4 separate regions of the Homo sapiens genome follow, and regions 1, 2 and 4 are each linked to region 3. The links come from fine-mapping of genetic effects on gene expression. A gene starts in region 3. Each other region holds a variant in brackets. All regions are shown on one strand. Distances are between the middles of the regions. Region 1 overlaps PI4KA (phosphatidylinositol 4-kinase alpha). Region 2 overlaps PI4KA (phosphatidylinositol 4-kinase alpha). Region 3 holds the start of SNAP29 (synaptosome associated protein 29). Region 4 holds the start of AIFM3 (AIF family member 3).

The links. PIP is the estimated chance that this variant, and not a neighbour inherited with it, causes the effect. A credible set is the group of variants that fine-mapping cannot tell apart.
Region 1: its variant is the best candidate, but not a certain one, in a credible set for the expression of SNAP29 in whole blood (INTERVAL, PIP 0.74).
Region 2: its variant is the best candidate, but not a certain one, in a credible set for the expression of SNAP29 in whole blood (TOPMed, PIP 0.62).
Region 4: its variant is the best candidate, but not a certain one, in a credible set for the expression of SNAP29 in whole blood (INTERVAL, PIP 0.61).

The regions. Positions count from the first base shown.
Region 1 is chr22:20,823,138-20,828,137 of GRCh38, reverse strand. PI4KA (phosphatidylinositol 4-kinase alpha) reads left to right here. Exons shown (of 55, transcript NM_058004.4): 4 at 3,724-3,812. Among named protein-coding and RNA genes, the nearest start is that of PI4KA, 33 kb to the left of the region's middle. The variant G/TTTTTG (reference allele first, on the strand shown) is at 3,069.
Region 2 is chr22:20,776,034-20,781,033 of GRCh38, reverse strand. All of the region lies in intron 19 of PI4KA (phosphatidylinositol 4-kinase alpha), which reads left to right. It overlaps SERPIND1 (serpin family D member 1), which reads right to left. Exons shown (of 5, transcript NM_000185.4): 2 at 833-1,737. The coding sequence starts at 1,721. Among named protein-coding and RNA genes, the nearest start is that of SERPIND1, 4.4 kb to the right of the region's middle. RefSeq lists an enhancer at 2,939-3,233. The variant A/G (reference allele first, on the strand shown) is at 1,940.
Region 3 is chr22:20,856,676-20,861,891 of GRCh38, reverse strand. SNAP29 (synaptosome associated protein 29) reads right to left here and starts at 2,885. Exons shown (of 5, transcript NM_004782.4): 1 at 2,545-2,885. The coding sequence starts at 2,781. It overlaps PI4KA (phosphatidylinositol 4-kinase alpha), which reads left to right and starts at 3,081. Exons shown (of 55, transcript NM_058004.4): 1 at 3,081-3,322. The coding sequence starts at 3,167. RefSeq lists an enhancer at 2,154-2,963 and silencers at 2,643-3,402, 3,423-3,472.
Region 4 is chr22:20,963,080-20,968,336 of GRCh38, reverse strand. It overlaps AIFM3 (AIF family member 3), which reads right to left and starts at 1,082. Exons shown (of 21, transcript NM_001386814.1): 1 at 1,034-1,082; 2 at 362-532. The coding sequence starts at 392. LINC01637 (long intergenic non-protein coding RNA 1637) reads right to left here. Exons shown (of 2, transcript NR_110537.1): 2 at 3,657-3,946. The variant C/G (reference allele first, on the strand shown) is at 2,094.

The DNA of each region.
Region 1 (5,000 bases), 34 kb after region 3:
GAACACAGTCCCATTCACAATATTCACAAAAATAATAAAATACCAGTCGGGCATAGTGGCTCACGACTGTAATCCCAGCACTTTGGGAGGCCGAGGCAGGTGGATCACTTGAGGTCAGGAGTTCGACACCAGCCTGGCCAACATGGTGAAACCCATCTCTGCTAAAAACACAAAAATTAGCTGGGCATGGTAGTGCACGCCTGTAATCCCAGCTACTTGGGAGGCTGAGGCAGGAGAATCGCTTGAACCTGGGAGGCGGAGGTTGCAGTGAGCCGCGATTGTGCCACTGCCCTCCAGCCTGGGCGACAGAGTGAGACTCCATCTCAAAAAAAAGAAAAGATAAAATACCTTGGAATACAGCTAACCAGGGAGGTGAAAAATCTCTATAGCAAGAATTACAAAATACTGCTGAAAGAAATCAGAGCTTACACAAACAAATGGAAAAACATCCCATGCTCATAGATAGGAAGAATCAATATTGTTAACATGGCCATACTACCCAGAGCAATTTATGGATTCAGTGCTATTCCTATCAAACTACCAATGACATTCTTCACAGAATTAGAAAAAAACTATTTTAAAATTTTTATGGAACCAAAAAAGAGCCTGAATAACTAAGGTAGTCTGAAAAAGAGTAAAGCTGGAGACATCACATTACCCAACTTCAAACTTCACCTCTACTACAGGGCTACAGTAACCAAAACAGCATGGTACTGGTAAAAAAAATAGCACATAGACAAATAGAATAGAGAGCCCAGAAATAATGCTGCACACCTGGAACCATCTGATCTTCAACAGAGTCAACAAAACAAGTAATGGGGAAAGGACTCCCTGCTCAATAAATGGCGCTAGGATAACTGGCTAGCTATATTCGGAAGATTGGAACTAGACCCCTTACTTACACCTTATACAAAAATCAACTGAAGATGGATTAAAGATCTAGATGTAAAACCTTAAACTATAAACACCCTGGAAGATACTAGGAAATACCACTCTGGACATAGACCCTGGCAAAGATTTAATGGCAAAAATTTAATGACAAAGATGCCAAAAGCAATTGCAGCAAAAACAAAAATTGACAAATGGGACCTAATTAAACTAAAGAGCTTCTGCACAGTAAAATAAACTGTCAAGAGAGTAAACAGCCACCCTACTGAATGAAAGAAAATATTTGCAAACTATGCAAAGGTCTAAAGTCCAGAATCTATGAGGAACTTAAATTTACAAACAAAAAAAAAACCCCGTTAAAAGGTGAGCCAAGGACGAATAGATACTTCTCAAAAGAAGACATACAAGTGGCCAAAAATATATGAAAAATATGCTCATCATCTGATGCTAATAATCAGAGAAATGCAAATCAAAATTGCAATGAGATACCATCTCACACCAGTCAGAATGGCTATTATTAAAAAGTCAAGAAATAACAGATGCTGGTGAGGTTGTAGAGAAAAGGGAACACTTACACACTGCTGGTGTGAATGTAAATTAGTTCAGCCATTGTGGAATGCAGTTTGGCAATTTCTGAAAGAATTTAAAACAGGATTACCATTTGACCCAGCAATCCCATTATTGGGTATATACTCAAAGGAATGTAAATCATTCTACTGTAAAGATGCATGCGTAAGTATGTTTATTACAGCAGTATTCACAATAACAAAGATAAGGAATCAACCTAAATGCCCATCAGTGGAAGACTGGATAAAGAAAATGTCGTATGTGTACCGTGGAGTACTGTGTAGCCATAAAAAAAGAAAAAGATTATGTCCTTTTATTTTTTATTTTATTTTATCTTTTTTTGAGACGATCTCGCTCTGTCACCCAGCTTGGAGTGCAGTGGTGCGATCTCTGCTCACTGCAACCCTCGCCTCCCAGGTTCGAGCGATTCTCCTGTCTCAGCCTCCCAAGTAGCTGGGATTATAGGCATGTGCCACTACACCCGGCTAATTTTTATATTTATAGTGGAGATGGAGTTTTGCCGTGTTGGCTAGGCTGGTCTCGAACTCCTGGCCTCAAGTTATTTGCCTGCCTCAGCCTCCCAAAGTGCTGGGATTACAAGTGTGAGGCCACCATACCTGGCCAAGATCACGTCTTTTGTAGCAACATGGATGGAGCTGGAGACCGTTATGGGAGAATTAGCACAGCAACAGGAAACCAAACGCTGCATGTTCTCACTTGTAAGTGGGAGCTAAACTTCGAGTACATATGAACACAGAAGGGAACAGCAGACACTGGGGCCTACTTAAGAGTGGAGAATAGGAGGAAGGTGAGGATGGGAAAACTACTTTCTGGGTACTATGCTTATTACGGGGATGATGAAATAATCTGTACACCAAACCCCCGTAACATGCAGTTTACCTGTATAACAAAACTGCGTATGTACCCCTGAACCTGAAATAAAAATTAAAAAACATTCTGTTTGTGCCAGTATTCCTCTTAACCTTTGGGTTTTCATCATTTCTGGTAACATGCCTAAAACTGACAGATCCCAAATTATGCATGTACCTGCAATTTGTTAGGATTTTGTTTGTTTTTTGTTTTTTTGAGACAGTCTCACTCTGTCTGCACTCCAAGCTGTAGTGCAGTGGCCTGACCTCGGTTCACTGCAACCTCCACCTCCTGGGTTCAAGCAATTCTCGTGCCTCAGCCTCCCAAGTACCTGGGATTACAGGCATGCATCACCATGCCTGGCTAATTTTTGTATTTTCGGTAGAGATAGTATTTTGCCATGTTGGCTGGGCTGGTCTTGAACTCCTGGCCTCAAGTGATCTGCCTGCTTTGGCCTCCTAAAGTGCTAGGACTATAGGCATGAGCCACTGCACCCAGTCTGTCCTGCAATTTGATGGACTACAAATTAAATAGAGCATCATTACTAAAAGGTCAAATTTTAGGCCGGGCATGGGCACATTCAAGTTTGAGAACAGCCTAGAGCTGCACTTTAAAATTTTAAGTGCTGGAGTAGAAATGTAAGTCTTCTGTCATGTACTATGAATATAGCTATTAAATAGTGGATACTCTTTTTTCCTTGATTCAACATTCAATATTCAAAATTGATTTTTTTTTTTTTTTTT[G/TTTTTG]AGATGGCGTCTCATTCTGTCACCCAGGCTGGAGTACAGTGGTGCGATCTCGGCTCACTGGAACCTCCACTTCCTGGCTTCGAGCTATTCTCCTGTCTCAGCCTCCCAAGTGGCTGGGATTACAGGTGTGCGCCACCACACCCAGCTAATTTTTGTATTTTTAGTAGAGACGGGGTTTCACCATGTTGGCCAGGCTGGTCTTGAACTCGACCTCAGGTGATCCGTCTGCCTTGGCCCCCCAAAAGTGCTGGGATTACAGACTTGAGCCACTTCGCCCAGCCGAGTGTTTTGTGTGTGTGTGTGTGTGTGTGTGTGTGTGTGTGTGTGTGTGTGTGTGATTTATCACATTTACTTAGGGAATAAAAAATTGAATCTGTCATGTTGAGAGGCTTTGTTATCTCACACTAGCTATTGGCTCAGGAAACATTTAAGTTTATTGAACCAAAACATTTACTTAAAGGAAAGGTAAGGGTGTTTCTCAGCAAACTCATTGGGCCCATAGCTGTTCTTTTGAGACTCGTCTCAAGGAGGGCAGCTGCTGTAAACTGGTCCCTTGGCAGGTCATGGTGAGAGGGAACATATTGAATTGGATGGCCAGAGGTGTGACCCAGTATCTGGTTCCTGGTTATCTGATTTATGTTTTTACATCTTCCAGGTGCCCTCCCGGTTGCAGAGAGCTTCAGCTTCTGCTTGGTAACTCTGCTGTCTGATGTGGCCTATAGGGATCCTTCACTTAGGGATGAGGTAAGCATGTGTTGGTTGATTTGGTATGCATTTCTATTAGATTGAATAGAGTCCCAAAGTGATGAAAAGATTTTAAAAACGTGAAATGTGATTGAATTGTTTGTTGATATTTATCTATTTCATCCTGTTGACAGCAGACCTAAGACATGCTTAGGTCTTTCACTACTCTTTAGGATCTCGAGTCTTATCTTATTAAACTTTTCTTTTTTTTTTTTTCTTTTTTCTAATGAAGGGCAGGGGCTGCAGAGACATGAGCAGCACTATCCCTTTCAGCTTTTCAGAAAGTCCTTTAAGGTAGGCGGCAGAAAAAGGCAGAGGCAGCTCATTTTTCTTGCTCTTTGTTGGGGATTGAAGTCATTCATAGAAGATCATTTTCTTTTCTTTTTTTGAGGCAGTCTTGCTCTGTCATCCAGGCTGGAGTGCAGTGGTGCAATCTTGGCTCACTGCAACCTCTGCCGTCCACCTCAAGCCAGCCTCCCTCCTAAGACTCCCAAGTAGCTGAGACTATAGGCGTGCACCATCATGCCAGCTAATTTGTTTTGTATTTTTTGTAGAGACAAGGTTTCGCCATGTTGCCCAGGCTGGTCTTGAACTCCGGGCCTCAAGTGATCCTTCTGCCTCGACCTCCCAGAGTGCTGGGATTATAGGTGTGAGCCACTGTGCCCAGCTAGAAGAGAATCTTCTAGGTAGCTGAAGCTTTTATCTTTAAGGGCACAGACTTTCTTTAGATTTTGTTAATTTTGATAGAAATGTTACAAACATGTATTTCATACTTTCCTGTTCTTTAAACAAAGAATGTAATCATACAACTTTTTCTTAAATTTATCGCTTAGAAAGTTAGTTTTTGTATGCTGCTGTTCCTAGGTTCTTCCAAACAGTGCCTAGTTGCTTGTCTGCATTCTAAATGTTCCCAGTTAGTGATGTATTTTGACTAATTTAGATTCTTCATTTATTTGTAGGTTGGCTAAAGAAATACTTAAATATGTTAGAATAATGTGTTTTTATTAAAAAGTTGGACATTAAGGGCTTTTTTCTATGAATAAAATTTATCAGAATAAAGAGGTCAACACCAAAGGTGATAACATGACTTTAACATATAAAATGGAAAAAGTGGCTGGGTGCGGTGGCTCAGGCTTGTAATCCTAGCACTTTGGGATGCTGAGGCGGGTGGATCACCTGAGGTCAGGA
Region 2 (5,000 bases), 81 kb after region 3:
GTCAATGTCAGCTGCTCAAGCTGAATAGTTCACAGGTGCATTTCTTTAGCCTTTTGTCTATATTCCTGCTTATTGATAATTGGGAAAGGAAAAGAGAAAACTCAAATCCAGGCTGGCCAAATGCTAAAACAGTTTTTGTATTATTTCTTCCAATTTAACAGATTGCTAGGGTTGGCCTCCCTGGGTTCAGCTTTGGCTCTGCCCCTTAATAACTGGGTGCCCTTGGAGCATCGTTTTACTTCTTTTTTTTTTTTTTTTGAGATGGAGTCTCACTCTGTCGTCCAGGCTAGAGTGCAGTGGCACAGTCTCGGCTCACTGCAATCTCTGCCTTCCAGGTTCAAGTGATTCTCCTGCCTCAGCCTCCCAAGTAGCTGGGAGTACAGGCACCCACCGCCAGGCCCAGCTAATTTTTGTATTTTTAGTAGAGCCAGGTTTTCACCATGTTGGTCTGTTGGTCAGGCTGATCTCGAACTCCTGACCTCAAGTGATCTGCCTGCCTCGGCCTCCCAAAGTGCTGGGATTACAGGCGTGAGCCACCGCGCCCAGCCCATCCTTTTACTTCATGTGTTGGTGGCTTCCTCTGTAAAATGGGGATGCTAATAACAGTGATGACCTCACAAGGCTGTGTTAAAGCACAGAGTTAGGGCTCAGTAAGTGTCAGATGCTACTGTCACTTCAGCTTGGCCTTCCCTGTCCCCGTTCCAGAGTCAATCTTGTGTCTAGTTTTCCTGGATAAATTATAGCTACAGTACAGTTCTTGGCATTCAATCTACCCACATACAAAAATAGTATGTTGTGGGTTTGCTGTGAGAACTGTAAAGGTGCCTCTTACCTTTGAAGTAGATGCAGTTGAGAATCATCATCTGGGTAGCAGGGTCTATATTCTCCAGAGCATCTTTTATGAGGCCCTTGGTGAGCTTCATGATGTGGTTGTTGGTTTTTGATATGAAGGCAGGGTCTGAGAAGTCAGCTATCTGGGCCTCAGCAAAGTAATACTCTCTTACTTTAGTTTTGAAGTCAAGCAGGATTGGAAACTGCTTCTGGATATAAAGGTCATTGACTGACCGCAGTGTGTACCCAAAATTCCTCCTGAAGAGGCGATGAGTCAGCTTACGGAAGAGATTATGAATGGTCGTGATTTCATACTTGCTGCTGGCATTAACAAAGTCTTTAAAATGCAAAATCGAGTGCACTTGTTCATGGGTCTCTCCCTTCAGACCTAAGGAAATCATACCCATCGCAGTAGAAATGCCAACGGGTGCTATGAAGATGTTATCGAAAGTGTTGACCTGGTCTTTCAGCACTCGGTAGAGGTTGAAAGCGAACTTGGCGTTGAGGATGTTAAGACGCTGGATCCGGCTCTTGCCATGAAAAAGCTGGAGGATGTTCCCAGCACTCACATCAGAGTCTGTCGGGGAAACTGACAGACTGTCGACGATGTCGATGTAGTCGTCGTCTTCACTGAATATCTTCTCCAGGTCCAGATAGTCGTCGTCCTCCTCCCCCTCTGGAATCCAGTCGTTGGTGACGGTGTTTTCCTTGTGGAAGTCGGCAGGGAGAAGAGGCATGCTCAGGTTTTTGTTATTTAACTGCTCCCACTGGGGATCTGCAGACTGAGCAGTTTCCCCTCCTTTCTCTAGCTGATCCAGCGGGCCTTTGCTCCCACCCCACGCAGATGTTATGATGAGGAAAATGAGAAGTGCGTTTAATGAGTGTTTCATTTTGGCGGAGCTAAAGCTGGGAGGGAAAACAGAACACAGTGAAAGGCGGCCTGGCTGATCCACACCCCGCTGCAGCATCCACATGGCAGGTTCCCTGTGGCTTTGACCCAGGAAGAGGCCCTCACAGCATTAGTTCTTAACTGTTTTAGGATCATGGACTTTAAGAGAATCTGATGTAGATAGACACCCAACCTTTGATGTGGGACTCATAAACCTCA[A/G]TGAAGGATCTGTGGGCCCCTTGATGAAAATCCCTTCTTTAAAGGTTTGCAAAACTAACCTTCTAGAATCCTGGGAGCTCAGGCATCCCAGGGAGGAGTTTGTTTTTCTCCAGACACCTTGTCCACCACCTCCAGACAGTGTTTAGTTACCAGAGACAAAGTTCCCACCAGGGGCTCATGGACCAGTCAGGGGACAGATGGGACAGACGTGCAGTAAAGCGAAGGCTCTCAAAATAATGCTGCCAGAGCACATGGGGGTACGGAAAGGGGTGTGGCTCTACCCTGTGTGGTAGGAGTGGAAGTGCCCAGAGAGTCAGGGAAACCTCACTAAGAGCTGGGCTTGAGTGGGCACCTGGGGCTGGTGATTGGAGAGTACCTAGAAGGGATGTGCATTAGTGGGACTCAGCCATGCCTGTGTGACTCACACCATTCCACCTTTGCAATGGAGATGCTGTTGAAAAATGTCCATGGGCCAGGCTTTCTGAAAACATATTCTAAAGATACTTGAAATTTGTGCAATCTTTGGGGTTGTTTAATTCGTTGTTTTTTTGTTGTTGTTGTTGTAATTGGCTTTTGTTGTTTTTATTTTTTGAAATGGAGTCTCACTCTGTCACCCAGGCTGGAGTGCAGTGGCGCGATCTCGGCTTACTGCAACTTCGGCCTCCTGGACTCAAGCAATTCTCTTGCCTCAGCCTCCCAAGTAGCTGGGACTACAGGTGCACACCACTACGCCTGGTTAATTTTTGTATTTTGTTTAGTAGAGATGGGGTTTTGCTCTGTTGGCCAGGCTGGTCTCAAACTCCTGACCTCAGGTGATCCACCCACCTCAGCCCCCCAAAGTGCTGGGATTACAGGCATAAGCCACCACGCCTGACCTGGGGTTGTTTAATTTGCAAAAGATTTGGAACTTGTCTAGTGCTGAGACCCCCTCAGGGCGTAGTGAGGTGATGTGGTGGCAGCCCCAGAGGTGATATCACTTGCTGCAGGTATACTTTTTTCTCCTTTGTATCTCTTAGACAATAGCTCCCACTGCTGTCAGGAGCAACTAAATCTTCTGTGTTACTGCTTCTAACACAGGGTTAGAAACAAGAGATAAAGTCTGTGTGAGGGTGATGTCAGCAAGCTCTTACTCAAGACCTGAGGGGCACTCCCTTTATTTAAGTAAACAAGATAAGCTTTTAGCACAGAGGCATTATGGCAATCCTGTCTTTATTTGTTCCTCTGACTCGTTCAGAGGAGGATCTGACTTGGCCTGTCAAATCTGTTTTGACTGCCAAATCCTTTGTCTTTCTCTTGCTTACTTCCTGGTTATTAACTGCACTCTGGTTAGATGAGCTTTGATGATTCCATGTTTTGCCAGGACAGTGACCATAGGTGTTTATAATGCTGACTCAGACAGGTAATACATGGTCCCAACTTCTAATCACCCCAGAAAGAACTGCCGGCCAGGCGCTGTGGCTTACGCCTATAATCCCAACACTGGGAGACCAAGGCAGGAAGATCACTTGAGCCCAGGAGCTCAAGACCAGTGTGGGCAACATAGCAAGACCTCATCTCTGTGAAAAATTAAATAAATAGGCTGGGTGCGGTGGCTCAGGTCAGTAATCCCAGCACTTTGGGAGGCCGAGGTGGGCGGATCATCTGAGGTCGGGAGTTCGAGACCAGCCTGGCCAACATGGAGAAACCCTGTCTCTACAAAAAATACAAAAAAATTAGCCGGCGTGGTGGCGCATGCCTGTAATCCCAGATACTTAGGAGGCTGAGGCAGGAGATTCGTTTGAATTCAGGAGGCAGAGGTTGTGGTGAGCCAAGATCGCACCATTGCACTCCAGCCTGGGCAAAAAGAGCGAAACTCCGTCTCAAAAAAAAAAAAAAGAAAAGAAAAATAATTAGCCTGGTGTGATGGCACACGCCTGTGGTCCCATCTACTTGAGAGGCTGAAGTAGGAGGATCACTTGAGTCTGCAGTGAGCCGTGATCACGCCACTACTGCACTCCAACCTGGGGGATAGAGTGAGTCCTTATCTCAAAAAACAGAAAACAAAAAAAAAACAAAAAAAAACTGCCTTTTGTTAAGCTTATTTTGTGTCTGTGACCATTTCCTATTAGATAGATATTTGAGGCCCAGAATATCTGCTGCCAGTTGAGGCCAGGTAAGAGTTACTGGCTGCTCTTGTTAAGCAAATATTTGAACTCAGTAGGCCTGAAGATGGGGTAACTGTTCGGATACTCTGCTTGAAATGCTGTCAGTGTGGTTAATGTTGATAATGGCCTCTGTTGGATGCCTGACACGCTGTATAAGGCACTTCGTGTAACTTAGTTTCATCCTCCCAACATTTTATATATCAGGAGACTGAGCCTTTCGTCACTGTCACTAATAAGTGGCAGTGGCTAGATTCGAACCAAGTTGGTTAAGCCTCTAAGCCCCACATCAAGCGCTCAGCCTTGTTCGCTCTGGAGTACCAGGATGCTTCCAGACTCCCTGGCCGTGCAGAGCAGCTTCCTAGCTGTTTTCCCAGTGCCAGTCCCATTCCTTGGGTCTTCCCCTTATAATACTGTTGAAATAGTAAGTTCAAAGTTTGTTTTAGTCACAACTAAGAAAGACTTTTGAATTGCACATTTTGGAGCAGGAAAGTCACATTGTTTCTGACTCAAAATGCCTGTTGCCTTTTCCAGGTCCCCATCTCAGCACCTGCCTCAGGCTGCAGTGCCACTAGTTTACACACGGGAAAACAGTTTCTAGAAACGATTTCTTTTTATTTTTATTTTGAGACGGCGGGGTCTCACTCTGTCACCCAGGCTGGAGTGCAGTGGCACAATATTGGTTCACTGCCACCTGTTCCTCTCAGGCTCAAGAGACCCTCCCACCTCAGCCTTTTGAAGTAGCTGGGACCACAGGTGTGTGCCACCAAACCCAGTTAATTTTTTGTGTTTTTGGTAAAGATGGGGTTTTACCATGTTGCCCAGACAGGTCTCAAACTCCTGAGCTCAGGCAATTCTCCTGCCTTGGCCTCCCAAAGTGCTGGAATTACAGGTATGAGTTACCATGCTCAGCCTCTAGA
Region 3 (5,216 bases):
GGAGGCCAAGGCAGGTGGATCATGAGGTCAGGAGTTCAAGACCAGCCGGACCAACACAGTGAAACCCCGTCTCTACTAAAAATACAAAAATTAGCTGGGCATGGCGGCGGGTGCCTGTAAGCCCAGCTACTCAGGAGGTTGAGGCAGGAGAATCGCTTGACCTGGGAGGCAGAGGTAGCAGTGAGCTGAGATCGCGCCACTGAACTCTAGCCTGGGAGACAGAGCAAGACTCCGTCTCAAAAACAAAAAACACCAAAAAAACAAAAACAAAAACAAAAACAAAAAAATTAGCCAGGTGTTGTAGCAGGTGCCTCTAATCCCAGCTACTTGGGAGGTTGAGGCAGGAGAATCATTTGAACTGGGGAGGTGGAGGTTGCAGTGAGCCGAGATCACACCATCGCACTCCAGCCTGGGTGACAGAGTAAGACTTTGTCTCAAACAAAACAAAAATAAAAAACCAACAGTTAAACACAGGGAGGTGGGCTAGGTGCAGTGGCTCACGCCTATAATCCCAGGACTTTGGGAGGCCGAGGTGGTGGATCACGAGGTCAAGAGATCGAGACCATCCTGGCCAACATGGCAAAACCCCAACTCTATTAATACCAAAATTAGCTGGGTGTGGTAGTGCACGCCTTAGTCCCAGCTACTCAGGAGGCTGAGGCAGGAGAATCACTTGAACCCAGGAGGCGGAGGCTGTAGTGAGCCAAGTTGGTGCCACTGCACTCCAGTCTGGTGACAGAGCGAGAATCTGTCTCAAAAAAAAAAAAAAAAAACCACAGGGAGGTGGATCAATGAGGGATACATGAACAGAGAGAGGTGGGGAAGGGAATTAACCCAAGAAAACAGCAAGGGGAAATGATAGCGTGTTGCTCTGTCGCCCAAGCTGGAGTGCAGTGGTATGAACATGGCTCACTGCAACCTTGACATCCTGGGCTCAAGCGGTCCTCCTGCCTCAGCCTCCTCAGTAGCTGCACTCACATGTGTGTGCCACCATGCCTGGCTAATTTTTCAAATTTTGTAGAGACGCAGTTACCCCTGCTGGTCTCAAACTCCTGGGCTAAAATGATCTGCCTACCTCAGCCTTACAAATTGTTGGGATTACAGAAGTACAACCGCGCCTGGCTTATACATTTTTTTAAACCTTTTTTTTTCTCTGTCCAAACAAAACTGTTTCATTAGCAGGCTGAAGAGAGACTGTGGTGTACAATAAAGAATCATTCTCGACCGGTATGGTGGCTCACGCCTGTAATCCCAGCCCTTTGGGAGGCCAAAGCGGGCGGACTGCCTGAGGTCAGGAGTTCCAGACCAGCCTGGCCAACGGGGCAAAACCCTGTCTCCACTACAAATACAAAAAAAATTAGCCGGGTGTGGCGGCGCACCTGTAGTCCCAGCTACTCGGGAGGCTGAGGCAGGAGAATCGTCTGAATCCCGGAGGCGGAAGTTGCAGTGAGCCCAGATCATGCCACTGTACCCAAGCAAGGGCGACAGAGCGAGATTCCATCTCAAAAAAAAAAAAAAAAGAAAAAGAAAAAGACCCTCCAGGATCTCGGTCTGTTGCCCATGCTGGAGTGCAGCAGCACGATCTCAGCTAACTGCAACCTCTGCCTCCCGGGTACAAGCGATTCTCCTACCTCAGCCTCCTGAGTAGCTGCGACTACAGGCGCACCGCCACACCCGGCTAGTTTTTTTTTTTTTTTAATTTTAGTGGAGACAGGGTTTCACCATGTTGCCCAGGCGGGTCTCGAACTCCTGAGCTCAGGCGATCCGACGCCTAGGCCTCCCAAAGTGCTGGGATTACAGGCGTGAGTCACTGCGCTCGGCCAGAATAATTGTTATTGAAGGTACTACTCTCTGAAATCTAAGGATGGGAAGAACTGATGAAGATGAGTTGGAGCAACAAACTCTTAACCCGCACACTATTTGTCTAGGATTTGGGAAGTAAAGGTAAGACCCTGGACTCAATCAAACCCAGGCTTTGGTCAACTAGGCAGCTGTCTGGGCTGAAGGGACTTCAATACCTCTATTGGTTGGTTAGGTGGAGATGTCAATGATGCGGGAAGAACTCGTGGACCACCTGCCCTGATGCTTCAGGGTATCACCTGACACTCGCAGGCACATAGTCCTCTCTTTCTGGCTCACTCCGGAAGGAATGGCCAAAACCCTGTGCCAGATTTTGCACAGGAAATAATGTCGAAGAAACGGACTCTCCATTTCCCAAACCTAGGACCTGCTGTTCAGAATTTTTACTCACCTGGACAGAAAATAATCTGGCGTTTCCCCGTGAGCTAGGCGTAAGAAAAAAAAAATCAACGAAGCAGACTAATAGCTAAGGAAGATTTCTGGGGTAAACTGCCCTCTTCAAGTACTCCAGATGCACATACCTTTACATAGTTAACAGATTGTTACCACCATCGAGTCACTAAGGTGCAAGAATCTATGCTAGGCAACTTGAGAATTCTCAAAAGATTGTGAGCAAAACATTTCTCGTCTCCGTTTGACAGCACAGAGACCGGCGAGTCCACACCAGCCCTGCCCCAGGCTCACCTCGGAAGAGGCGACCCCAACCTTCTCGGACTCGTACATGAGGGCCAGGGACCTGCTGGTGCTGGCGGCCGTGGCCTCAGCCCTGCGGAGGACCTCCTGCCGCAAGTACTGCTGCCTGTCCGCGGGCGCGTCGGGCCCGTCGGGGAGGTCTCGGGCGTCCCTCCAAGGGGCCGGCCGGGCGCCTTCGTCCTCCCCGTCGTCGTCGAACGGATTGTAGCTTTTAGGGTAAGCTGACATGGTGCCGGCGCGGCTCTCGGTCTGGGAAACAGAAGGAGGAGCCCCACTGCCGCCGCCGTCCAGGGCCTCGCCCCGCCCGCCGACCCCGCGGTCGTCGCGCGAACTCCTTCCGCGCGTCGCGCGCAGGTGGCCCCGCCCTCGGAGCCGACCATCGCGCAGGTCGGCTGGGGGGGGCCCACATCCGGCGCGCGCAACCGCAGCCTACTGTCCATCCCCTCTCTCCCCTGCAGCGGTGGGCCCGCCCCGCAGCCACGCCCTATCTAGTGTCAGCAACTGAGAGGTCACGTGGCGGGAAAGCCGGATGCACCTACGCCTGCGCCCTGAGGTCGGGCGCTCGCGGGCCAGGAGCGGGGAGCCGGCGGGCAGCGCCGCGGCTCGTGAGGTGATGGCGGCGGCCCCGGCCCGGGGAGGCGGAGGCGGAGGCGGAGGCGGCGGCGGCTGCTCCGGCTCCGGCTCCAGCGCCTCGCGGGGCTTCTATTTCAACACGGTCCTGTCACTGGCCCGCTCCCTGGCGGTGCAGAGACCAGCATCCTTGGAGAAGGTAACGTCGGCGGGCTGGGCCGCGGGCTGACAGGAGGAGGGGCTGGGGTGACGAAGCGTGGAGGCGGGACGAGGGTCTGTGGGAGGCCGAGGCTGGGCTCGCCGGCAGCCTGTGCGGGAGGGGGCGCCTGAGCGGAGGGATCTAGCGGGGGAAGGAGGCCCTAGTGGGAGGGGCTGGTGAAGAGAGAGGGACCGTGGGGGAAGGGTCGGCGGGGCCTGCAGGGCCGCTGCAGGTGGGTGGTTGTGGGATGGGGGTGGGGGATGTGAGCTGCTGGCCCAGGGAGCATCTTGTGACATCGCGGAGGTGGAGGCTGGATCGTGGGCGGCTGTGCGGAGCAGTGGGATGAGCCGAGGACCAGGGGTCAAGACCTGGGGTTCTGCTTCCGATTTCACCTGCTTTTTATTCCGCGACCTTGGGAAGATGGCTTTCTTGTAAAATGGGGATGCTTTTATCTGCTTTGCCGGCTTCACCGGACTGTGGTGACCAGGAGACGAAACACTGTCTTGAAAGTGCTTTGTGACTGTAAACCAACTGCGCAGTGTTATTCTACGAGGCTGGGGGCGTTAGGTTGGGTAAAAGATTGTGCGTTTGCAGAAGGGACAGTGGCAGGGAAAGGAGAGTGAACTGTCAGTGGGCAGAGAAGTGAACTTGGAATTGCTTCAGAAGAGAAAGGTGAAGTCATGCCAGAGCAATCCTCATCTTGGGAGAAAGGTGAAAGGCAACTCAGTGGTGTGCCTTGAGATCTGGAAAGAGACAGATTTTAGAGTGGGACCTGAATTTGTTCCCTGCACTGGCACTTACTTACCATGTCCTCTTGGGTAAATTTAACTCTTAGAGCCTCTGTATCCTTATCTGTAAAATGAGGTTGTTCTTGAGAATTAAATGAGTTCTAGCATAAAGCATCTTGCACAGGTCAAGGCACAGAGTGGGTGAGCAGTAAATGTCAACTTTCTTTGCCCACCCGTGTGCGATGAGACTCAGCACAGTGTTTAGCTCTGAAAGGATGGAATTATTTTCCCACTCAACTTTTTGGCACATGGAGAGAGGATGTTTTCCGACAAGATAAGACAGTGGTGACCGGAGACCAGCCTGCTGCAGTTGGGAGTGGTTTTGTGGCTGTCTGCTGATGGATGAAGCTGAAAGGCTGTTTTAGGCACTTTTGGCAGAGTGACCTGGTCCTTGGCCTTGTCGGTTCTCATATTTGATTTTATCATGCACCTTCGGGGTGAGAAGGTCCCGGCAGATTGGTGCTAACCTGACTTCTAGCTAAAGAGGGAGTACAATGCAATGGAAAGGACATGAGTTTGGAAAATGGAACCTCTGAATTTAAATCCTGTATCACTTGCTTTCACTAGTGTGACTCTAGACAGGTCAGTTCCCTTCTCTGATACTTTGCTATCTTCTGTCAAATACAAGGTAGTACTTCATAGGAGTATTGTGAAGAGCAACAAAAAGGCACGTGGGTACCTAATGTATGAGCACTGTTATCATTAGATAGTCTGACTAATGGAGTGTAGTGCTGTTTTATTGAATCAAACTCATGCTAGCTAGTCAGCACATTCGCTTCTTAGCAGGAGAGCCAACAAATATATCTTATGACTGATTGCTGGATTCTGGGAGGAGAGAGAAGAGAATGCAGTGAATTGGATGATCTTTAAGAAGCTGGTCCTGCAGCTCCAGCAGTGGTAGCACCCTTTCCACTCAGTAACTCAGAAAAGGGCACCTTGAGCTCAATTTGCTTCTTCAGCCATGTTCACTAGTCACGAGAACATTCTGTAATTGCAACATTCTTAGCTTTGTAGTAATAACTGCTTCAGTTGTCAAGATTATATTTTATGATGGGGCACGGTGGCTCATGCCTGTAATCCCAGCACTTTGGGAGGCTGAGACAGGC
Region 4 (5,257 bases), 110 kb before region 3:
GTGGCTGAGCGTGTCCCCAGCTCCCCCCTTCCCTGGCCCTGGGGGCATAGCCCCTTCCCCAACCCTGCAACAGGAGGAACCCTGACTTTCCTTTTCCAAGAAGGGTCCTGCTGTTATTCCCACCACCAACACTCAAAGCCCCAAAGAAAAAGGGGCACCCACTGGAGCAGGGGCCAGCTGGGGGAACTGCTCCAGGCCCCCTACCCCCTCCTGGCGGCAGCGTATTAACATTCCGAGCGGGTTCTTGGATAGCCTGACCTACTTCGGAGGCCTACCGAGTGCAGAGGGGGAGGGGGGGGAGACGGGGGAGGAGGAGGCGGGGAGGGAGGAGAAAGGATGGAGACAAGAAGACAGGAGGTACCTGGTTTGGGTTTGGAGAAGCAGCCGCCCATGGCGAGTGGCCTGAGGATGGCCGGCAGGCAGGAGCACAGATGGGGAGCTGTCGGAGGCCTAGGGCGCCCCCCATGGGGCTGGACCCCCTGCAGGCCTTAGAGACGCTGGAGCCGCCATCCTGCTGGAGCTGCTCTAGGACCTGCAGGGGAGACTGGAGCCATCAGGACCGGGGCGTGTGGGCAGGTAGAGACACAGAGGGACGGAGAGAGACAGTGGGAGCTTCGGAAAGAGTCTTACATTTGAGCTGGGAACCATGGCGTGAGCCTGATCCCAGAGCGTGGGGCCCTGGAGGTCACCTCCCCTTTGAAGCCCTCCAAGCTCAGCTCCCTCACTCCTCCAGTGGAGTTCCTCTGCCCGAACCTCGGCCGCCCATCGTCCAGCCCCGCGGCTGCCTTGCCCAGGAAATCCTCCCTGATTTCTACTGCCTCCTCGTGCCCCCCTTCCCCTCTCCAAATCCCACAGCCTGAGAGCTCTGGGACCCTCCATTCTCCCGGGAGACCACTATGCCTAGGCTCAAAGAGGGGGTCACCTTGGGGAAGCCAAAGCCCTTCTCATCCTTGGTCTTCTCCCTCCTACAATGGGGGTGACATCAGGCTCCCCCTAGCCCAGCCCCACCCTGGCTAGCACTCCGGACACCCACCTCCTCGCAGGGCAGCCACTGCTCCGTGTTCCAGGCCCAGCAGTGGACTGAGGCTGCCGGGCCTTGGAAGGCCGGGCAGGGAGGGCAGGGGTCCAGGAGGCGGCCCAGCCTCCACCCTCCTCCCAGCTCAAGCTGTGGCCAGGAGGGGCTGGGGGGCGGTGTGGGGCTGGGCCAGTCCACTGGTCCCCAGGGAAACCCTGCTCTGTGGTGAACAGAAGTGGGCGGCCAGCCCGGGCCTGATGGGGTTAGGGGAAAGGGAAGCCAGGCACACAGCCCTGCCACGCCTGTGCCCAGCAGCCATAAGCTCCCCCTACCCCCGACTCCAGCCCTTCACAAACGCCCACCAGGCCTGTGGGCAGTCATGCCCAACAGCATATGGGGAAAGCAAGGGGTCAAGGTCCCATCAAGGTCAAGCAGCAGGGGCATCCCTGTGGCCTCCCACCCCACCCTCCCACCTTGATCAGTTTTAAGGTGGGCAGGGGCCCAGAAAGCCCCCATATCACCCTAAGGCCCTGCAAGGTGCCCTGGGGGAGGGGACACCTGCACAGCAGAGAGATCACTGTAGCCAGGTGCCTTCCAGGCTACAGGGTGGGCCTTCCGGAAGATGCAGCCTACAGGTGGACTTTGGAAGGCCCAGGGCACAGGCATAAGCTGCCTTGTTTGCAAATGACCTCCCCACAGTCCATCCCACTGCCATCCTCCAGTTTCCTCTGGAAGTTCTTCCTGAAGTCTCACTTGAGGTGGGGCTGAGACCCACCTGGTCTGGTCCAGATACCAGGAAGGGCCGTGGGTGGGTGCCTGAGAGCAAGGGGTGGAAACAAAAGGCCAGGTTGGAGAGGGACCCTTGGTGCCTGGCCCCTGCGCCTGTCGGTCCTCGAGGTGCCCATTACAGGGGAGGAGGCGGTGGCTCCCACAGCCACTGGGGCGTGCCTTGGCTCTTTCCCCCACTTGTCATCAAAGAAGGTCTGTAAAACTCAACTGCCACCTGCCCCACCTGCCCCTTCCCTGGGCACTAGGCTGTCCCTTCCTGGGTCCTGGTTTCAGCCCTGGTTCAGCCCTG[C/G]CCGCTTCCTTCCTGGCTGACCTCAGGCCTCACCTGATGGGCCACAGATCCCAGAAAAGGTCAGACCTGGTCTTGCCACTGGGGACCTGCCCAGGCTGTGCTGTCCCTTCCCGAGTACCCAGGGACCTGAATCCCCCAGGGCCTGGGCCAGGAAGGAGACTGGGTGGGGCCCCTGTGCCTTCGGCCTACTGTGTGCTAGATCGGCTTGGAGCCCAGTCACCCCACTCAAAGGCAAAGGTCCTTGCCAGGGGCAGGGCAGGAGGGACCCCCAGAGTGCAGAGCGCCCGAGTGCTATTCCTTGCCCATGAGCTGCCCACTGCAGAAAAGTTCTAGCAGAGCCCAGTGCTAACCACCCAGCAGGAGTCTGTGTCTGTCCCAGGGACCCCAGGACCTGTGAGGCGGGACTGGATTACTCCCATCTCACAGAGCGGCCCCTGCTCCACCTGACCCTCCCAGGGCTCCTGGCGCCCCCAGGGTGCAGGCTGGGCAGGGTCCTCTCCCCACTCCTCCACCTCTCGCCACCTGCCCCCACTGCCTCATCCCAAGGGCTCCTGCCCAGATCGGACTCCCAGTGGCTTCCAGGCGTCCTAGGGGTGGCATCTGATCCCAGTCCTGCCTTCGAGTGTGGGGGCTCCGCGCTCTCCCCTCCCCCACGGAGCTCAGGGCAAGCCTCTGTCCACTCTCCCCGCCTCTGCACGTGCAGTTCCCTCTCTCTGGGAAGCCGATGCCAGCAGCCTCGCCGGCTCCGTCCCGTTGCCCCCGCCAGACCTTGCAGCCCGAGAAGGGGGACTGGCACACAGTGGGGCCCCGCGGCGAGCCGGGAAGGGGCCGTTGTGGGACGAGAGAAGGACGAGGTGAGCTTCGGACCCCGGCCAGTGCCTCTGGCCCCGCTTGCCAACCCCCAGCCCCTAACGTGCCGGGCCGGGGTCCGAGACTTGGGAGCGCAAGCGCTGGCCCCCGGCGCCGGGGCGAAGAGGCGGGGCGGCGGGCGGGGACCGGGGTTCCGGGGACCAGGGTCCCCGGGGCGGGCGCTCACCTGGGCTCGGCGCGGGCCTGGGCTCGGGAACCGCTTGGGGCCGCGGGCGCGGGGGGGCGGGGAGGCGCGGGCGGGGCGTGTCTGGCGCTGCGTTTGCACTGCGGCCGGGGAGCCCGCGGGCCCAGCACCGCCCCGCCGGGCCGGAGCAGGTGGGGGGCGGCCGGGGGACAGGGGCAGGCCGAGGCCCTCGGCGTCCGGACCGGAGTCGCGGGGCGTAGGGAGGCAGCCAGGGGCCGCTCTGGCCGGGGGCGCCCCGGGCCCGAGTCTGGGTCTCCGGGGATCCTCGCGACCTCCCAGGGATGCCCAGCTGGGGCGCGGGCAGGGTCTTTTTTCCTTTTCTTTCTTTCCAAAGTCTCAGAACCATCTGTGGGCGGGGTGGGGGAACTTGAATCACTCTGAGAAACCTCCACAAGAAAGAAAACCCCAATCAAACCTTGCTGCCCACAGCTCCCTTCACTGGTTGGGGGAGTTCAGGTTCCCCGGTGTCCTAGGTTCCTCCCGGCCCTCTCTCCACACATACCAGGGTCTGTTTTCAATTATATTTTATTACATTTTCTTTTTCTCACCTGTCATTTACCAGAACTCCTTGGGTCTCCAGAAATCACAGTGCACCCTGATGTTGTGCCTCCTCCTCCAGGAGGCCCTCCCTGATCAGCCTCCCCTCTATTAGGGCTGATTATTCTGGTTCCTAACACTTGGGTGTTTCATTGTCCTTAATGTGTGCATCTCTGCGTTGTAGGTAGACCTTGTCTTTCAAGCAGGCTGGAGCACAGAGGCTGTGTGGGTTCCTCCCCGGTCTGGGCCTTGCTCTCCTCTCCTGTAAGGAGGACAATAATGACAGCAGTAAAGTCCCCTGTGCCAGGCCCAGCCAGCCTTCCCAGGCCATCCTCTGGGACTATTTATGCCCCACCCCACCCAGGGGGCAAGTTCGAGCCCCCACCACCACCACCCTCCTACAATTTTACAGATAGGAAATGCAGCCCAGGGAGTCCTGGTCTCGTTCAGGGTCAGGAACAGGCCCTGCATGGGTCACACTGGGGGCAGGTGGTGGGGTGACCAGGCCCAGAGGGCACATGTGGCTCAGTTCAGGCAAGTCCTCTCAGCTCATGTGTTGCTTCCACAGTGGGACCGTTGCCACTGCCACAGGAGAGTCCCATCACAGGGCAGATGGCAGTGCTTGGGGCTGGTGCCCTCAGTCTCCAACCAGCCTGCCCCCATTTCATACACGTGGTGATCTTGCTGCCCCACCCACCTTCAGAATCTCCTCTAGCCAGGAAGACAGTGTGCCTCATAGTAACTACAGCTGTGATTTTGCATGCATTTATTTCCTTACCCATCACAACAGCCTGAGAAGGAAAGTTCTCTTTGTATTATCTCCATTTCACAAACGGAGAAACTGAGGTTCAGTGAGGTTAGGGACTCTCCAGGGCCACACAGCTGCTAAGTGGCAGAGCAGCCCTGGGCAGGCTGGCCTCCCAGATGGAGGGCTGGAAGCAGGAGGGGAGAGGCCTACCAGGCTCATGCAAGACCACAGGGCCTCCAGTGCACAATGCAAGTCCTGTTCTGTGACCTTGGCAATCAGTGAGTGGACCCCTCTGCTCCAGCCTTCCCAGGACACCGCAGGTAACTGAAATACTCTCCCAGACTGCTGCCAGGACACCATGACAGGCACAGAGCCAGGCACAGGGGGTGCTTGGGAAGTGGGGTCGGGGCTGCTGAGTTTGGGGTGCCAGAGATAAAGCTGGGGAAACAGGTCAGTGTAGGGACTGAGGCCAGCAACTTGGGGAGATACCCTGACACAAGGCAAGTGCAGGCCTGACCTGGGGCAAGTCCATTGTGGCTCCCTTTGCCGCAGGCACTGTGCTTGAGGTTCCTGCTGCCCCATGGTGGGGCAGAAATCACAAGATCTTCGTAGAGCAAAAGCTAAAACCAAGGGCAGGCTAAAAGTGCTGCCTCTCCCGAAGGGCCCTCAGGCTTAGTGGAGATGCATGTGGACCAGGGGCCCCAGGAAGACCCAGGAGGGCTCTGAGCCCCGGGCAGCCTGAGGTCCTGATATTGCCCCAGGGATAGTTCTGGAAAGACGATAATATTCCAGCAGCTTTGACAGTACCAAATGGGGCACATGGCT